Linked DNA regions of Homo sapiens: region 1 is linked to region 2. Evidence: fine-mapped expression QTL. Tissue or cell type: whole blood. Region 2 holds a variant in brackets; the other region holds the start of a gene. All regions are shown on one strand. Distances are between the middles of the regions.

The links. PIP is the estimated chance that this variant, and not a neighbour inherited with it, causes the effect.
Region 1: it holds the start of PHETA1, and the variant in region 2 is fine-mapped to the expression of PHETA1 in whole blood (TOPMed, PIP above 0.99).

What each region holds. Positions count from the first base shown.
Region 1 is chr12:111,363,554-111,373,485 of GRCh38, forward strand. It overlaps PHETA1 (PH domain containing endocytic trafficking adaptor 1), which reads right to left and starts at 5,542. Exons shown (of 3, transcript NM_144671.6): 1 at 5,359-5,542; 2 at 2,560-2,704. It overlaps LINC02356 (long intergenic non-protein coding RNA 2356), which reads left to right and starts at 5,708. Exons shown (of 4, transcript NR_187522.1): 1 at 5,708-5,767; 2 at 8,416-8,517. RefSeq lists a silencer at 5,133-5,712.
Region 2 is chr12:111,319,561-111,329,492 of GRCh38, forward strand. CUX2 (cut like homeobox 2) reads left to right here. Exons shown (of 22, transcript NM_015267.4): 17 at 452-1,215; 18 at 2,861-3,020. LOC105369983 (a long non-coding RNA gene) reads right to left here and starts at 602. Exons shown (of 4, transcript XR_945341.2): 1 at 513-602. The variant C/T (reference allele first, on the strand shown) is at 4,531.

The DNA.
Region 1 (9,932 bases), 44 kb after region 2:
CGTTTCACAGATGAGGAAACTGACGCTCATAGGGTGGAAGCAGCTGGCCTATGCGCCCACAACTCCTAAGAAGCAGAGACAGGACTGGAACCTGGGTCTCACGGGCCTCCCCAGACAGCCTCATAACCTCCTACCCTCCTGTATCCCTGAAATAATGTTGTGAGTTCCTGCTGCATGCCAGACATTTCAGAGGAATGAACTCACTTTATCTCACAATAGACCTTAGGTCACAGGGACTGGCCTGGCACCAGTGCAACAGATGAGGAAACAGAGGCACAGAGAGGTTAACTGCTTCCCTGGTGTCACAAAGCAGGTTGGGCAGGGCTGAAATCCAAACCCAGGCCTCATTTCAGGCGCTGCTGTTTCCATCATCCCAAGAACAAGACCAGCTGGCCTTCTGCAGTCCCTGCCAGGTCCCAGCCCTGACTTTGTGGTTCGACTTTGGTTTGTTCATCCATGAAATGGATGAGCAGAACCAACTTTGGAGAGTTGTAGAGATTGATTTCATTCATAAAATGTTTATTAAGCATCTACTGGGTGCCAGGCATTGTTCCAGGCCTAGGGATATAGCAATAACAAGATGGACAGGGTCGTCCAGCCTGGCCAACACAGTGAAACCCCTTCTCTACTAAAAATACAAAAAATAAGCCAGGCGTGGTGGCGGGCGCCTGTAATCCCAGCTACTCGGGAGGCTGAGGCAGGAGAATCACCTAAACCCAGGAGGCGGAGGTTGCAGTGAGCCGAGATTATGCCATTGCACTCCAGCCCGGGCAATAATGTGACACTCTGTCTCAAAAAAAAAAAAAAAGATGGACACGGTCCCTGCCCTCGTGGTGTTGAAATGCCACTGGCAAGTGAAAGGGAGCAGACAGTTAACAAACAGATAAGACGTCTGCCAGGTAGTCTCATGTTCTATGGAAAATAGTAAGACAGGGGCTGGGCACAGTGGCTCACGCCTGTAATCCCAGCACTTTGGAAGGCCAAGGCCAATCCTTCTCACCTGAGGTCAGGAGTTCGAGACCAGCCTGGCCAACATGGCAAAACCCCATCTCTACTAAAAAACAGCCAGGTGAGGTGGTGCACGCCCATAATCCCAGCTACTTGGGAGACTGAGGCAGAAGAATCGCTTGAACCCAAGAGGCGGAGGTTGCAGTGAGCCAAGACTGCGCCATTGCAGTCCAGCCTGGGCGACAGAGCAAGACTCCATCTCAAAAAAAAAAAAAAAATAGCCAGGCATGGTGGGGGGTGCCTATAATCCCAGGTACTTGGGAGGCTGAGGCAGGAGAAGTGCTTGAACCCAGGAGACAGAAGTTGCAGTCAGCCGAGATTGCACTACTACACTCCAGCCTGGGGACAGAGCCAGACTCCGTCTCAAAAAAAAAGAAAGAATTTGGGGAAAGATGCAGGCCCAGGGCTAGGCTGACTTACAGGAAGGAGGGGCAGGGGGTCGACCCGTGCCATTTAGCATAGAGGACTCTAACTCCATGCCATCGGCCACAGTGACCCCATCCACCTTCCCCCAAGGAGTATATGATGGGGCAACGCTGGCCAGGAAGGACTTGTCGGGAGGTGGCATCTGCGTCCCTGGCCTGGCCACCTTCCCTTGGGGTTTTCCATGGCCATTTTGAGAGCCTGCCTTATCTCCCACTGCAGAGCCTCAGCCTGCATAGGATGGTAGCTACATTTTTCAAGAAGCAAAGGATATAAAGTCCTGGTACGCAGTAGGCACTCAGTGTTCATTCCCCTGCCTGGGTGGTGTCTTTCTCAGAGCCTGGTGGAATGAGGTCAGGGTGGTGGCTCTCCTGGGAGCAGGTGACCGCAGTGAGGCCCTGCCAGACTACCTGTCCTAGGGTGGAGGGGGTTGTCCTTGCCACCTCCTGTCAGCCACATAGGCAGTCAGGGAAGGCTTCCTAGAAGACGGAACATGAGTTGTGACTTAGAAACTGAGATCAACCAACCCAAATGCCCATCAATGATAGACTGAATAAAGGAAATGTGGTACATACACACCATGGAAAACTATCCAGCCATAAAAAGGAATGAGATCATGTCCTTTGCGGGGAAATAGATGGAGCTGGAAGCCATCATCCTCAGCAAACTAACACAGGAACAGAAAACCAAATACCGCATGTTCTTACTCATAAGTGGGAGTTGAACAATGAGACACATGGACACAGGGAGGGGCAGAACACATATCGGGGCCTGTTGGGGGATCGGGGGTGAGGGGAGGGAACTTAGAGAACGGGTCAATGGTGCAGCAAGCCACCATGGCACACGTATACCTATGTGACAAGCCTGCATGTTCTGCACATGTATCATGGAACTTAAAATAAAAAAAGAAACTGAGGTCAGTTTGTCCTGACCTAGTGGGAGGCCAAGGCCAGAGCCCCCAAAGTCTCCAGGTGTTGAATCCCCACCCTGCCTCTCAGCTACAGCTGTCCCTCTCTAAGCCGCAGGGATTCACGCATTCCCCACACCACCACCCATCAACTCCCATGTGGATGCTGGCCCCGGTTCTCACAGGACCCTCCCGCCCTGCTTGCCCAGTTCCGCTCCTACCTCTCAGGCCACCACTTGCCTCCCTGCCCTCTGCTCAGCTCCAGCCTCAGCTCGCTCTTCTCTGGATTCAAATGTCAGCTCTGCAGCATCTGGGCTGGGGGACCCCAGGCAGGCTATTCATCTCTCTGGGCCTCTGTTTCTGCATCTGTAAAATGGGATCGTAACAGTGCCTAAGTCAGGGCTGTTGTGACAATGATACAGTGACTATATGGACTTTGCGGAGCATGGGGCCAGGCACACAGTGCCTGCTGAGCGCGGTTGCAGTTCACATTTTTCTTGGCTTTTCCCCAAACATCCCTGTGTTGTGCTTCCGATCTCAGCAAATGGCCCTTGGTTTCCCTCTCACCCCCGCATCTGATCGCACATCAAGTCCAGTTGATCCCCCTCTCCAGCGTCTTCCAAATCAGTTGCCTAATCTGTCCACTCCACCTCCCCATTCTAGGCCCCATCACCATTCACTGGGATGGCTGCTGTAGCCTCCTCATAAGTCTCCTTGCCCCTCCCTGTCCATGTTCCTCAAGGTAAGATCCAAGCCTCCTTCCTAAGCTCTTCTCCGAGCCACACTGAAATCCACTTCCCACAGATGGATCCTGTGAAAATTAAGTCCAATCACACTCCTCCTCTGCTCTAAACCCTCCCATGGCTCCCTACTTCTCTCAGCATAAAATTAAATCCTTAGGCAGGGTGCGGTGGCTCACACCTGTAATGCTGGCACTTTGGGAGGCTGAGGGGGTAGGATTGCTTGAGTTAGAGACCAGCCTGGACAACATAGCAAGACCCTATCTCTATAAAAAATAGAAAAAAAAATAGCTGGGCATGGTGATACAAGCCTCTAGTCCTAGCTATCTGGGAGGCTAACATGGAAGGACCCCTTGAACTTGGGGGGTGACATAGTGAGATTCTGTCTCAAAAAAAAAAAAAAAAAAATCCAAGCCTCCCTTGGCTTCCAAGTTCCCTTTCCCTACCTCTTTCCCCCTTGTTCACTCAGCTCCAGCCATCCTGGCCTCCTTTCTGTTCCTCAAATACACCAGACACATCCCCACCTCCAAGACTTGGTCCCGGCTGTCTGCCTGCAGGTCTTCACAAGGCCAGCTCCCCATCCTTTGGTCTCAGCCTAGCTGTCACCTCCTCAGAGAGGTGGTCCCTGGCCACCCTATGCACAAGAGGCCCCCCAGTCCCTCTCCTGTGCCTCCACCTGAAATTAATACCTGGGTCATTTCTGCCTGCAGGGGCGTTTGTGGTCTGAATTCTAGTGCCTGGCATGCAGTAGGTACTCACACAGCTGTTTGATTCATTCTGCAGTATCTTCTGAAACCTTTCAACAGCCCCAAGACAAGGGATCTCACCCCACATTCACAGATGTGGAAATGGACACAGGGAGATTCAATAAGTTGGCTAGAGGCATACAACTGTGCCCAGAATCACATGCTCCAGGCAAGCCACCCAAATAAAGGGGCTGATCTTGGGGTCTCTCCACCCCATCAAGGCCAAAGGAATAGCAACTTCCCTCCTGCTCAGCAACCCTCCTCCCCCGACTGCCTAGATAGAGGCCAAACTGGTTCAAGGTCACCAGCAGGCACAGGACCCAGCTCTGCCCATGACCCCTGCCTCCACCAGAACTGGGAAGACAGGAAGCTGCAGGGGCACAGGCGCCAGCCTTGCCTGGAGCGAAGGCCTGGCCCCTGCCTTATCTCCCCACACTGTTTTCCAAGAAGTTCAGAGTCCACTGTGGGCACTGCTGCTGATTCAACAGCCCATGGCCAGACAGGAAGCTGGAGGGAGCCTGGCCCAGCTCTGCTCCCAAGGCAAAGTTCCTGCCTCCGCAGGTCCAGGCTGGAGGACCTTGGACAAGTCGTTTCACCTTTCCAAGTCTCAGTGTCCTCATCTGTTAAATTGGGCTGTGTGGCGAGGGTTCATGAGCTAAAAGAAGGAAAACCCACTGGCAAACTATGGGAAATGGATTGCAAATATTAGCTGCTGTGAGTCGGAGTTTTTTCTCAGCCTCATCTGCAAAATGGTGACGTTAACTTCCATCCCTCTAAGGGCTGAGTGAATTGACTCCTGAAGAGTCATTTTGCAAAATACTTGGTGGGTAGTGAGCTTTCAGGGAAAGAGCTGTCAAAAAGGCAAATAATTCATCCAAGATCTCCAGGGGCACAGCTGGCCCCGGAACCCAGGTCTCCTGGGAGACTGAAGCATGGCATTTTGGCACTCACATCAACGAAAAGAAGCCAGTACCGCAGGTCCTGGGGTTGAATCCAGCTGCCCTCAGTGTCCCCCAGCAGCGGGCGTGGGGAAGAGGGTGTGGCAGGCACAGGCTGAAAAACATGTGTGCCAAGAACACTAAAGAGCAGCCTGGCCGTCACCGCCCCAGCAGGGACCCCAGAGACACGCCAGCACCGCCGTCCAGACACAGGCAGCCCCCTTGTCCACGGCAGGGGCTGCTGCTCCAGGTGTGGCCCTGCTCCCGGCTGCTCTCTGTCCCTTTGTGTGTTGTGCGTGGGAGCTCTCTTAAGTTCCTTAAAGGACAGCCAGAGCCCCAGATGGGTGATCAGCGGCAGAATGGGGGGCTTATCCGCAGTCCCCACCAGCGGCAGACGTCCCTATGGGCTGAGAGAGGGGAGGGTGGTCATTGGCCAAGTTCGCCTCGGCAGCTGGAGAAGTCACCACTGGTGCGGAGTCCCAGCGGGGAAGATCCCCGCAACGCGCTCTCCAGGTGGCCGGGGGACCCCGAGGCCCAGGGCGGCCCGACCCGGGTCCCATGTCCTCGTGCATGTCCCCCCGCCAGGCCCGCCTTACCTCGCAGCGCAGGCCTAGGGCGGCGACGGGACGGGAGGCGCGAGGTTGCGGGGTGGCCCGGCCATGGTTCGGGACTGGCCCGGTGGCGGCGACGGCGGCGGCAGCGCTTTGTCTCCTGGGCGGCCGGGCCGGCGCAGCCGCGGGAGAGCGCGGATCCGACGGAAGGAGGCGGGAGCAACCGGACAGTCCGCGACCCACGGGCGCGCCCCTTTAACCCTTCCCAGCCTGCTCGCGCCGGGCCCGCCCCCGCGTTCTTCCCACCTCCCGATTGGCAGGCCCCGAACCGGCACGCCCCCGTGAGCCCGCCCTCGAAATCACTCTTAAAGGGTCCGCTCCTGGCTCGCGACTCCCCAGTTCCCTAGCCCAGAAAAGCGGATTGGAGCCCGGGAAGCTCATTGCGATTCCAAAGGTAAGGACTGGCCCAGGTCGTGGATTAGCCTGCAAAAGCATTTGGGGGTCCTGGGCGGGCCATTCGCTGAAGTCCTAGGCTTAAGTCCGAACTCCCCCCAGGACGAGGCAGGAGGATTGCCTGAGCCTAGTAGTTCAAGACCAGCCTGGGCAGCAGAGGGAGACCACCATCTCTACAAATAATAAAAATATTTGCTAAACCTGGGTTGCCAGGTTTAGCAAATTTAATGCCCAGTTAAATTAGAAAAATAGCTCTAATTCCTGAAAAATGTGTGAGTGGCAGAAAAAACAGCTGAATCCAGGACATTTGCGTACAGCACTGTTCCATACGGACAGGGCGCCTCGCAAGCTTCCCCTGGCTCCAGGTGAAGAGAGGAAGTTCTGGAATTAGGCAGACTTGAGTTCGAGTCGCACTAGGCCACTGAACACTGTGTGAGCTTAGAGAAATCATTTCACTTCTCTAAGCCTCCGTTTCCTCATCCGGAAAATAAAGACCATCATGATATGTAAAGTGCACGGCACAACAGAAAGCTCTCAAGAAATAGGAATTGCTGTTGTTTTTGCCCTGCCCACCTCCTTGAACCCTTCCTTCCTGTTCCTGCCGCCTCTTCTCCACCACCCGCCACCTCCCAATCACTATTAAGTCCTGGCCTGAAAGCAGGAAGAACAGGACAGACCAGGGTCAGCTCTCCATTGTACAGCCTCTCACTAAGCGCCTACTGTGTGCCAGGCACTGTACCTGAACCAGGTAAGCAGGTGCAGCCAGGAATCAAGACAACACAAATGAGTTCTGGAAGTGATTCATGCTAGGACTGTACGCTAAGGCAATGGGGCAGAAAGCCTGGGAGTGCAGTTTTTTTGTTTTTGTTTTTTGTTTTTTGTGTTTTTTTGTCACCCAGGTTGGGGTGCAGTGGCACAATCACAGCTCATTGTAACCTGAACTCCTGGGTTCAACCGAGCCTCCCACCTCAGCCTCCCAAGTAGTTGGGACTACAGGTGTGTACCACCACACCCGGCTAATTTTTTTTAATTTTTTGTAGAGATCGGGGGGGTCTTGCTATCTTGCCCAAGCTGGAAGTGCAGCTTTTAGACAAGGTGGTCAGGGAAGGCCTCTCTGAGGACAGACCTGGAGGAATGAGGGAGGGAGCCATGTGGTTATCTGGGAGAAGGAGGTCCCAGGCAGAGGGAACAGCAAGTGCAAAAGCCCTGAAATGGGGCCATCCTGGGCATGTTTGAAGAACAACGAGGAGACCAGTGGAGCCAAGTGAGCAATGGGAAGAATAGTAGGAAAATAGGTCAGCTGGCTGGGCGCAGTGGCTCACGCCTATAATCCCAGCACTTTGGGAGGCCGAGGCAGGTAGATCACTTGAGGTCAGGAGTTCGAGACCAGCCTAGCCAACATGGTGAAACCCGGTCTCTACTAAAAATACAAAAAAAAAAAAAAAAAAAAATTAGCCAGGCATGGTGGTGTACACCTGTAATCCCAGTTACTTGGGAGGCTGAGACAGGAGAATCACTTGAACCCAGGAGGCAGAGGTTGCAATGAGCTGAGATTGCACCACTGCACTCCAGCCTGGGTGACAGAGCAAGACTCTGTCAAACAAAAAAAAAACAAAAACAAAAAAAAAAACACAATAGATCAGAGATTATTGGCAAAGCCAGAAAGCCAGGTGACCTAGGGGCTTAAGGACCAGAGGAAAGATTTTGCTTTTACTCTAAGAAGAATGAGGAGCCATGGGAGGGTTTTGAGCAGAGGAGGGACATGGTCTGTGTTAGATTTAACATGGTCCCTGACTGCTATGGGCAGGGAATGATAGTAGAAGCCAGGCGATCAGGGAGAACACTACTGCAGTAGTCCAAGCAAGTGATGGTGGTGGCTTAGAGTGGAGCAGTGGAGGTGGAGAGAAGTGGTTAAGTATAGATATATATTTAATGGATATATGTATTAGTCCGTTTTCACACTGCTGATAAAGACATACCCGAAACTGAGAACAAAAAGAGGTTTAATTGGACTTACAGTTCCACATGGCTGAGGAGGCCTTGGAATCATGGCGGGAGGTGAAAGACACTTCTTACATGGCAGTGGCAAGAGAAAGTGAGGAAGAAACAAAAGCGGAAACCCCTGATAAACCCTTCAGATCTCGTGAGACTTATTCACTATTATAAGAATAGCGTAGGAAAGACTGGCCCCCATGACTCAATGACCTCCTCTTGGGTCCCACTCACAACACGTGGGAATTCTGGGAGATACAAATCAAGTTCAGATTTTGGTGGGGACACAGCCAAACCATATCATTTTGCCCCGGCCCCTCCAAATCTCACGTCCTCACATTTCAAAACCAATCATGCCTTCCCAACAGTCCCCCAAAGTCTTAGCTAATTTCAGAATTAACCCAAAATTCCACAGTCCAAAGTCTTGTCTGAGACAAGGCAAGTCCCTTCTGCCTATGAGCCTGTAAAATCAAAAGCAAGCTAGTTACTTCCTAGATACAGTGGGGATGCAGGTATTGGGTAAATACAGCCGTTCCAAATGGGGGAAATTGGCCAAAACAAAGGGGTTACAGGGCCCATGCAAGTCTGAAATCCAGTGGGGCAGTCAAATTTTAAAGCTCCAAAATGATCTCCTTTGACTCCGGGTCTCACATCCAGGTCACGCTGATGCAAGAGATGGGTTCCCATGATCTTGGGCAGCTCCACTCCTGTGGCTTTGCAGGGTACAGGCTTCCTCCTGGCTGCTTTCACGGGCTGGTGGTGAGTATCTGTGGCTTTTCCAGGCACACAGTGCAAGCTGTCAGTGGATCTACCATTTCAGAGTCTGGAGGATGGTGGCCCTCTTCTCACAGCTCCACTAGGCAGTACCCCAGTAGGGACTCTGTGTGGGGGCTCTGAACCCCACATTTCCCTTCTGCACCACCCTAGCAGAGGTTCTCCATGAGGGCCCTGCCCCTGCAGCAAACTTTTGCCTGGGCATCCAGGCATTTCCAAACATCTTCTGAAATCTAGGCAGAGGTTCCCAAACCTGAATTCTTGACTTCTGTGCACCCACAGGCTCAACACCACATGGAAGCTGCCAAGGCTTGGGGCTTCCACCCTCTGAAACCACAGCCTGAGCTCTGTGTTGGTGCCTTTCAGCCATGGCTGGAGCAGCTGGGACACAGAACACCAACTCCCTAGGATGCACACAGCACAGGAACCCAGGGCCTGGCCCACAAAACCACTTTTTCCTCCTGGACCTCTGGACCTGTGATGGAAGGGGCTGCCAGGAAGTTCTCTGACATGGCCTGGAGACATTTCCTCCATGGTCTTGGGGATTAACATTAGGCTCCTTGCTACGTAATGCAAATTTCTGCAGCCGGCTTGAATTTCTCCCCAGAAAATGGGCTTTTCTTTCTATTACAATTTACTTCTTATTTTTTTCTTTTCTTTTCTTTTTTTTTTTTTTTTTTTTTTTTTGAGACAGAGTCTTGCTCTGTTGCCCAGGCTGGAGTGCAGTGGTGTGATCTCAGCTCACTGCAACCTCCGCCTCCTGGGTTCAAGCGGTTCTTCTGTCTCAGCCTCCTGAGTAGCTGGCACCAGGTGCACGCCATTGCACATGGCTAATTTTTTGTATTTTTGGTAGAGATAGGGTTTCACCATGTTGGTCAGGCTGGTCTTGAACTCCTGACCTCAGGTAATCTGCCCACCTTGGCTTCCCAAAGTGCTGAGATTACAGGCTTGAGCCACCGCTCCCAGCCTGCAAGTTACCTCTTGAATGCTTTGCTGCTTAGAAATTTCTTCTACCAGATACCCTAAATCATCTCTCTCAAGTTCAAAGTTCCACAGATCTCTAGGGCAGGGGCAAAATGCCGCCAGTCTCTTTGCTAAAACATAACAAGAGTCACCTCTGCTCCAGTTCCCAACAAGTTCCACATCTCCATCTGAGACCACCTCAGCCTGAATTTTATTGTCCATATCACTATCAGCATTTTGGCAAAGCCATTCAACAAGTCTCTAGGAAGCTTGAAACATTCCCACATTTTCCTGTCTTCTTCTGAGCCCTCCAAACTGTTCCAACCTCTGCCTGTTACAGTTTCAAAGTCACTTCCACATTTTTGCCTATCTTTTCAGCAACACTCCACTCCTGGTACCAATTTACTGTATTCATCCATTTTTGCACTGCTGACAAT
Region 2 (9,932 bases):
ACCCTGTCTCTACTAAAGCTAAATAGCTGGGCATGGTGGTGCACACCTGTAATCCCAGCTACTCAGGAGGCTGAGGTAGGAGAATTGCTGGAAGTGGGGAGGCAGAGGTTGCAGTGAGCTGAGATCGTGCCATTGCACTCCATCCTGAGCACCAGAGTGAGACTCCATCTCAAAACAAAACAAAACAAAAGTCAGGTCTGTGTTTGCATTGCATTATCCGCATGAGCATGTTCTCTGCATATGCCAAAACCTCACTGTCAACCGAATTTTGGGTGGCTGCCTAATATTCTGCCACAGGGAGGGATCATAATTTAGTTAGCCAATCCCCAGTTGCTGGACACAGAGGTTGCCTGGACACCGTGCTGGCATCAACAGGGATGCTGTGAACATCGTCCCCTGCATGCCGAGCCCTGACCCTGGGCCTCGGGCCGTCCTGTCCCCCTCCCCGCAGGCGAGCCCAAGACCTCGGTGGCCCCGCTGAGCATCGCCAACGGCACGACCCCCGCCAGCACCTCGGAGGACGCCATCAAGAGCATCCTGGAGCAGGCACGCCGTGAGATGCAGGCGCAACAGCAGGCGCTGCTGGAGATGGAGGTGGCGCCCAGGGGCCGCTCGGTGCCCCCCTCGCCCCCGGAGCGGCCATCACTGGCCACCGCGAGCCAGAACGGGGCCCCGGCCTTGGTGAAGCAGGAGGAGGGCAGCGGGGGCCCCGCGCAGGCGCCGCTCCCGGTCCTGTCCCCCGCCGCCTTCGTGCAGAGCATCATCCGCAAGGTCAAGTCCGAGATCGGCGACGCCGGCTACTTCGACCACCACTGGGCCTCCGACCGCGGCCTGCTCAGCCGCCCCTACGCCTCCGTGTCGCCCTCGCTGTCCTCCTCCTCCTCCTCTGGCTACTCTGGCCAGCCCAACGGCCGCGCCTGGCCCCGCGGGGACGAGGCCCCTGTGCCCCCCGAGGACGAGGCGGCGGCAGGGGCGGAGGACGAACCCCCCAGGACGGGCGAGCTCAAGGCTGAGGGCGCGACGGCCGAGGCGGGCGCGCGGCTGCCCTACTACCCGGCCTACGTGCCGCGCACCCTGAAGCCCACCGTGCCGCCGCTGACCCCCGAGCAGTACGAGCTGTACATGTACCGTGAGGTAGACACGCTGGAGCTCACCCGCCAGGTCAAGGAGAAGCTGGCCAAGAACGGCATCTGCCAGAGGATCTTCGGGGAGAAGGTGAGTGCAGGGCGGGCCCCCGGTGTCTGGGCTCTGGGAGAAGATGTCGGAGAAGTAGGATGCCCACCCAAGCAGGCTGGCGGGACCCCAGGGGCCCAGGCCCTTCATTCCTGAGTCCTGCTGTCCCTGGGTCCCGCAGGAAGGAGGGCCACTGTTCTGCTCCGTGGTTGTTAAAACCAGGAAATGCTTCCATCCTGGCCAGCAAACAGCCACTTAACTCCCCTCCTCCAGGCCCCTCCAGATCGCCTGAGGTCCAGCCACTAAAGGGTTAAGTGGCAGGACTTGGTGGCTCACGCCTGTAATCCCAGCACTTTGGGAGACGGAGGTGGGAAGATCTCTTGAGCCCAGAAGTTTGAGACCAGCCTGGCCAACGTGGTGAAACCCCGTCTCTACTAAAAAATACAAAAATTAAGCTGGGCACGGTGGCTCACACCTGTAATCCCAGCACTTTGGGAGGCTGAGGCGGGCAGATCATGAGATCAAGAGATCAAGACCATCCTGGCCAACATGGTGAAACCCCATCTCTACTAAAAATATAAAAATTAGCTGGGCTTGGTGTCCTGTGCCGGTATAGTCATGGCTACTTAGGAGACTGAGGCAGGAGCATCACTTGAACCTGGGAGGCAGGGGTTGCAGCGAGCCAAGATCTCGCTACTGTGCTCCAGCCTGGGTGACAGAACGATACTCCATCTCAAAAGAAAAAAAAAAAAGTGTTTGGGATCAGCCTGGGCAATGTAGCAAGACCCCCATCTCTACAAAATAAAAAAAATTAGCCAAGTGTGGTGGTGCACAGCTACTCAGGAGGCTGAGGTGGGAGAATTGCTTGAACCCAGGTGGTCGAGGCTACAGTGAGCCATGATCACACCAGTGCACTCCAGCCTGGGCAACAGAGCAAGACCTCATCCCCCCAAAAATAAATAAAAATTTAAAAAGAAAGGGTTAAATAAAGCTCACCCTAGCCAGGGGACCTCAGTGTTTCCTGATTGGTTGGTGCCCCTGCAATGCCAGTTTTAAGTGTCACCTCTACCTTTAGCAAGGGAATAGGCAAAGGGCCAGGCAAGCTCGGAGGAGGGAGAAATGACTTAAGTGGGAGGTCAGGGAAGGCTTCCTGGAGGAGGGGGGCACTGAAGGATTTTTACATGTAGGGACATTAGGGAGGGTACTGGAGGGGAAGGGCACAGCAACAGCACATGGCAGGCACCTATGAGGAACAAATGAAGGCCGCCTGGACTCCAACAGAGGGGAGGGGAGGGGATGGGAGGCTGGGCATGGTGGCTCACACCTATAATCCCAACACTGTGGGAGGCTGAGTTGGGTGGATCACTTGAGGTCAGGAGTTCGAAACCAGCCTGGCCAATGTGGCAAAACCCCATCTCTACTAAAAATACAAAAATTAGCCAGACGTGCACCAGCCTGGTACAAGTCCCAACTACTAAGGAGGCTGAGGCAGGAGAATCATTTGAACCTGGGAGGCGGAGTTTGCAGTGAGCTGAGATGGTGCCACTGCACTCCATCCTGGGCGACAGACAAAGCGAGACTCTGCCTCAAAAAAAAAAAAAAAAAAAAAAAGGTTGGGGAGGAGAGTGAGGGCCAGGCCCATGTCCCAGGGGCCTGCTGACCTACCCCCCTGGCCCGCCCCTCGCAGGTGCTGGGCCTGTCACAGGGCAGCGTGAGCGACATGCTGTCCCGGCCGAAGCCATGGAGCAAGCTGACGCAGAAGGGGCGGGAGCCCTTCATCCGCATGCAGCTGTGGCTCTCTGACCAGCTCGGCCAGGCAGTGGGCCAGCAGCCTGGTGCCTCCCAGGGTGAGTGCGGGCAGGAGCATCTCAGGGGGTGCTGGCAAACTTCCCACCTGCGCAGTGGCATGTCCGCCTGGCTTTACTGCCCGAGTCTACCTATCTCTCCCTCCCTGCTGCCCTGGCTTTCATCCCAGTCACTGTCATGGCTGCACTGGAACATGGCGGGGGGTCCTGGGGTTTCTCTGCTCCCCTTTCTTCCTTCCTCCAACCAGAGGGAGGCTTCTAGAAGCTGCACGCCTGATGCACTGGGTCCTGGCTTTAAGCCTCCAAGTGGCTCCATGGTGCTCAGAGCAGGTGGAGAATGTGTTTTGCATGTGGAGTCCCACATCTGGAATTGCTCATCGATCTCAGCTCTGTTTCCTGAAGACCTAGCGTGCAGCCTCAGACTCCTTCTTAGCACAGGGCCTTGGGCAGTGCCACCCAGCTGCCCATGATAGCACGAGCAGGCTGGAGTGTCAGCTTTGCCCGGGTGAGGAAACGGAGGCTCAGAGGGATGCCCAAAGTCCCAGAGTCCGGAAGTGCTAGGGGGAGCCCCAGCTCCCTGCCACTGTGGGGACCAGCGGATAAGTCTGCCAGGGCCCTGGTGAGGCACCTACCCGGGCCCTGCACTGGAATGAGGGCACGTGACTGCAAGGAGAGGACATCAGACCTGCCCACTGAGAAGGGCAGAGACCAGGGGAGGCCAGACCCTGAGTCCAAGGATCTGAGCTCAGTCTTGTCAATAGGACAAAACCATATCTCAGGTTCACAGAAACGAGCCAGGTCAGCAGGCCCATATCAACAGGAATATGGACTGGAAACATAATGTCAAGTGACAAAAGCCTCCATCCCAGTGACAGTGCTTACTATAGAAGCTAACACCTACAGGATGAGACTGCACACTGGTGTAGCTGTATGGCTGCAGACTTATGCATTAATATTTAAAAAGAGGCTGAGGACAGGCATGGGGGCTCACGCCTGTAATCCCAGCACTTTGGGAGGCTGAGGCTGGAGGATCTCTTGAAGCCAGGAGTTCAAGATCAGCCTGGGCAATAGAGGGAGACCGTGTCTCTACAAAATATAAAAATAATCAGTTGGAATGGTACGTACCTGTGGTCCCAGCTACTCGGGAGGCTGAGGCAGGAGGATCACTTGAGCTGTGATCATCCCACTGCACTCCGGCTTGGGTGACAGAGTAAGACCTTGTCTCAGAAAAAAGGAGGCCGAGCACAGTGGCTCACGCCTGTAATCCCAATACTTTGGGAGGTGAAGGCAGGAGGATCTCTTGAAGCCTGGAGTTTGAAATCAGCCTTGGCAACATGGCGAAACCTCATCTCTACAAATAAAAAATTAGCCGGGTATGGTAGCATGTGCCTGTAAGGGTGAGGCAGGAGGATCGCTTAAGCCCAGAAGTTCGAGGCTGCAGTGAGCTATGATCATGCCACTGCAGTGCATCTCACACTGCACTGGGCAAGTGAGACCATCTCTAAAAGAATTAATAAAATGAAATGTATAGGCCGGGTGTGATGGCTCACAC[C/T]TGTAATCCCAGCACTTTGGGAGGCCAAGGCGGGCGGATCACAAAGTCAGGAGTTCGAGACCAGTCTGGCCAACATGGTGAAACCCCGTCTCTACTAAAAATACAAAAAATTAGCTGGAAATGGTGGCGTGCACATGTAATCTTAGCTGCTTAGGAGACTGAAGCGGGAGAATCACATGACCTGGGAGGCAGAGGTTGCAGTTGAACTGAGATCCTCACCATTGCGCTCCAGCCTGGGCAACAGTGTGAGACTCTGTCTCAAAAAAAAAAAAAAAAGAAAGAAAGAAATGCATAAGGAGGCAGCCCCCCAGCTGGGGAGGGAGGTTGCACTGGGCAGGGAGGGGGCCAGGAAGAGGCAGGGCGTGGTGACTTTGCTCTGCTCCTTTCCTATTCTTTTTTTTGTTTTGTTTTGTTTTTGTTTTTGTTTTGAGACAGAGTCTTGCTCTGTTGCCCAGGCTGGAGTGCAATGGCATGATCTCGGCTCACTGCAACCTCTGCCTCCCGGGTTCAAGCGATTCTCCTGCCTCAGCCTCCCGAGTAGCTGGGGTTACAGGCGTGCGCCACCATGCCCAGCTAATTTTGTATTGTTAGTAGAGACGGGGTTTCTCCATGTTGGTCAGGCTGGTCTTGAACTCCTGACCTCAGGTGATCCACCCACCTTGGCCTCCCAAGGTGCTGGGATTACAGGCGTGAGCCACAGCACCTGGCCCTTTCCTGTTTCTTTAAAACAAGAAGGAAGATTGGAAGTGACGGGGGTGAAGTGTCAGCATCGATTACGGTGATGGGTGGAAGGGAGGGGAGGACTTACATATTGTTGTCTGTATATTTCTATATGTTTTTAATAGTTTATAAATACAATGATTTAAAAACTCCTCTCCATAAGGCTGTAACGAGGATTAAAAGCAGCCATGCTGGCCGGGTGGGGTGCCTCATGCCTGTAATCCCAGCACTTTGGGAGGCTGAGGCAGGCGGATCACAAGGTCAGGAGATTGAGACCATCCTGGCTAACTCGGTGAAACCCGTCTCTACTAAAATTACAAAAAAAAAAAAAAAATTATCCGGGCGTGGTGGCAGGCGCCTGTAGTCCCAGCTACTCAGGAGGCTGAGGCAGGAGAATGGTGTGAATCCGGGAGGCGGAGCTTGCAATGAGCCGAGATCCTGTCACTGCACTCCAGCCTGGGCGACAGAGCGAGACTCCGTCTCAAAAGAAAAAAAAAAAAGCAGCCATGCTAATGCTAATGACCGCTGCCACTTACCACACATAGCACCAAGTGGTCAAAGTGCTTTGTCCTGTAATCTTCATGTCAGTCTCCACCAAAGGGACTGTTTATCATTTCCATTTCACAGATGAGGAAATCCAGGGGCATGGTAGTGCAGTGACTTGCCCAAGGCCATCATCCAGTGAGTGGCAGACCTAGGATGAGCACCCTGGGCTGTGGGCCATCAGGCTTCCTGCCCCCTAGGGTCCCGAAATGTGTCTACCCCAGAGCCTACCTGGGAAAAGACTTCCATCCTTTTTTGTTTATAGTGTTGTGGTGGGGAGGGGTGGGTTTTGTTTATAGTGTTGTGGTGGGGGAGGGGTGGGTTTTGTTTATAGTGTTGTGGTGGGGGAGGGGTGGGTTTGTTTATAGTGTTGTGTTGGGGGAGGGGTGGGTTTTGTTTATAGTGTTGTGGTGGGGGAGGGGTGGGTTTTGTTTATAGTGTGGTGGGGGAGGGGTGGGTTTTGTTTATAGTGTTGTGTTGGGGGAGGGGTGGGTTTTGTTTATAGTGTTGTGTTGGGGGAGGGGTGGGTTTTGTTTATAGTGTGTTGGGGGAGGGGTGGGTTTTGTTTATAGTGTGTTGGGGGAGGGGTGGGTTTTGTTTATAGTGTTGTGGTGGGGGAGGGGTGGGTTTTGTTTATAGTGTTGGGGTGGGGGAGGGGTGGGTTTTGTTTATAGTGTTGTGGTGGGGGAGGGGTGGGTTTTGTTTATAGTGTTGGGGTGGGGGAGGGGTGGGTTTTGTTTATAGTGTTGGGGTGGGGGAGGGGTGGGTTTGTTTATAGTGTTGTGATGGGGAGGGGTTGGTTTTGTTTATAGTGTTGTGGTGGGGGAGGGGTGGGTTTGTTTATAGTGTTGTGGTGGGGGAGGGGTGGGTTTTGTTTATAGTGTTGTGGTGGGGGAGGGGTGGGTTTTGTTTATAGTGTTGTGTTGGGGGAGGGGTTGGTTTTGTTTATAGTGTTGTGGTGGGGGAGGGGTGGGTTTTGTTTATAGTGTTGTGGTGGGGGAGGGGTGGGTTTTGTTTATAGTGTTGTGGGGGAGGGGTGGGTTTTGTTTATAGTGTTGTGTTGGGGGAGGGGTGGGTTTTGTTTATAGTCTTGTGGTGGGGTAGGGGTTGGTTTTGTTTTATAGTGTTGTGGTGATGGAGGGGGTTGGTTTTTGGTTTTTTGAGACATAGTCTCACTCTGTCACCCAGGCTGGAGTGGTGAGCCACTGCGCCTGGTCTGTGGTGTTAGGTTTTAACTAACTTTTTTACTGTAGTAAAATTCACATAACAGCTGGGCACCGTGGCTCACACCTGTAATCCCAGCACTTTGGGAGGCCGAGGCGGGCCGATCACTTGAGCCCAGGAATTTGAGACCAGCCTGGCCAACATGGAGAAATCCCGTCTCTCCTAAAAGTACAAAAATTAGCCGGGTGTGGTAGCACGCATCTGTAATCCCAGCTACTCGGGAGGCTAAGGCGAGAGGATCGCTTGAACCCAGGAAGCAGAGGTTGCAGTGAGCCGGATGGCACCACTGCACTGCAGCCTGGGTGACAGAGTGAGACTCTGTCTCAAACAAAGAAACAAACAAACAAAAATCACATAACGTAAAATGTACCTTTTAAACCATTTTTGAAGTATACAATTCAGTGGATCTAATACATGCACAATGCGTGTGACCATCACCTCTGTCTAATTCCAGAATATTCCCACCGCCCCAAAAAGGAACCCCATACCCATCCAGCAGTCATTGCCCATCCTCCTTCCCCCCAGCTCCTGGAATTCCGCTTTCTTTCTGTCTGGATTTGCCTCTTCTGAATGTTTCATATAGATGGAATCCTGTACTACTTGGCCTTCTGTGGCTGGCTTCTTTCAGTTAACGTGTTTTCAAGGCTCATACAGGCTGTAGTATGCATCAGAATTTCCTTCCTTTTTTATGGCTAAATGATATTCCATTGTATGGATAGACCCCATTTTGACTATTTTGAATAATGCGCCTATGAAAATTTGTGTACATATTTGTGTTTGAACCCCCATTTTCAGTTCTTCGAACATATATCTAGGAGTACAGTTGGCTAGATCATATGGTAACTCTTGTGTTTAACTTACTGAGGAAGTTCAAAGGGTTTCTGTTTCTCCAGGTCCTTACCAACATGGGTTATCTCCCATTTGTTGACGCTAGCCATCCTGGTGGGTGTGTAAGTGGTATTTCACTGTAGTTTTTATTTGCATTTCCCCAATGTCTGATTGTTTTGGTTGTAGATTTTATTGTCATGGAAGGATTTGACCACAGGTAGGATAGAGGTAAGCAGAGAAGATGGAGAATGGTGCTCCTTGTGGAAGGAATGGCACAGGCAGCGGCTAGGAGGTGGGACCATGCACGGCCTGGGAAGGGATGTGAGTAGAGGTGGCGGGGTCCCCTGCTCTCCCAGAATAGGAAGCCAAGGCTAGGCACAGTGCGTCACACCTGTAGTCCCAGGACTTTGGGAGGCTAAAGCAGGCGGATCACTTGAGGTCAGGAGTTTGAGACCAGCCTGACCAACATGGCAAAACCCCTTCTGTACAAAATTACAAAAATACAAAAATCAGCTGGGCATGGTGGCAGGTGCCTGTAGTCCCAGCTACTCAGGAGGCTGAGGTATGAGGATGCTTGAGCCTAGGAGGTCAAGGCTGCAGTGAACTGGAGTGAGTGCCTTCCAGTCTGGACAATAGAGCGAGACCCTGTCTCAAAAACAATAATAATAATGATGAGGGAATCAGGCCTGGAGGTGGCTACTGTAGCTGCTGGCCCTAGGGAGAGAGTGGTGATGGCAGAGCCACCCTCACAGCCTCTGCTTGTTCATAACCCACTGGGCCTGGAAGCAAAAGGGTGTATCCATTGCCCACAAAGTCCCACAGAGTCTGGCTGTGGGGCTGGGTGTCAGGACCTGTCCAAGCCCCGCTTGTGTATGCCCTGGCCACTGGGGCGGGCAGGGACCGGCACTGGAACCCTGACCATACCTGTTACTGAAGTTGAGCCAGATGCCACGGGAGGGTTATAAAGCACGCCCTTATCCCCACGTCCACTGCCAGGCGCAGCCCCGGGTATAATCGGCGCTACCTACCGTGGCAGCATCAGTATTCCAGACCCTTCCATCCGAGGTTTCTCAGAATTCTCAAGCAGTCAAGGAAGCCCTGTCCTGTCCCCATACACAGTCCCTGTCTTCCCTCTGTCTCTCTCCTGATCTCTGTCTCTCTCCTCCAATTTCTTTTGTGTGTGTGTGTGTGTGTGTGTGTGTGTGTGTGTGTGTGACAGAGTCTCACTCTGTCGCCCAGGCTGGAGTGCAATGGTGTGATCTCGGCTCACTGTAACCTCCGGCTCCTGGGTTCAAGCAATTCTCCTGCCTCAGTCTCCGAAGTAGCTGGGATTACAGGCACCCAACTAATTTTTTGTATTTTTAGAAGAGACAGGTTTTGCCATGTTGGCCAGGCTGGTCTTGAACTCCTGACCTCAGGTGATCCACCCACCTTGGCCTCCCAAAGTGCTGGGATTACAGGCATGAGCTACTGCACCCAGTCACCTCCATTGTCTTCTTTCTGTTTTTCTCACTCTGCATTTTTTTGATTCACCTATCTCTCTCTCTCTCTCTCTCTCTCTCTCTCTCTCCCCCTCTCTCCCTCTCTCCCTCTCCCTCTCCTCCCCCCACCCCACTCTCTCTCTCCCCCTGCCTCTCTCACCATCTCTCTCCCCCTCTGTTTGCTCTGTCTCTTCCTCCCTGACCCTCCCTGTCCCTCCAGTGCTCTCTTTTCATCTCTCTTGCACCATCCTTATCTCTCCAGGAGAGAGAGATTTCCCAGGATCTGGAACTTTCTGTAGTAAAATAAGGAAAGTCGCGGGCAGACTGGGATGGGTTGGTCACTCTGCTCTCTCTCCTGTCCCCAGCTGCCCACAGCCCTGTCTGGCACCCCACCCACAAGCCCAGCAAGGCAAGAAGACCCTGCCTCTCCCTGTCGTCGCCTCCCTCTCCAAATAACCCAGTTGTTCACATGTGACTCCCCCAGCCCTGTAATTAGCACAGTCTTCCTGATAGAGATAATTTCTGAATCTTTCCATCACTTCGTCAGAAGCGATTCTCAGTCAGAGGAGTCAGAAAGGCGGGGTTCTCCCTGGGGGAGTGGGATTG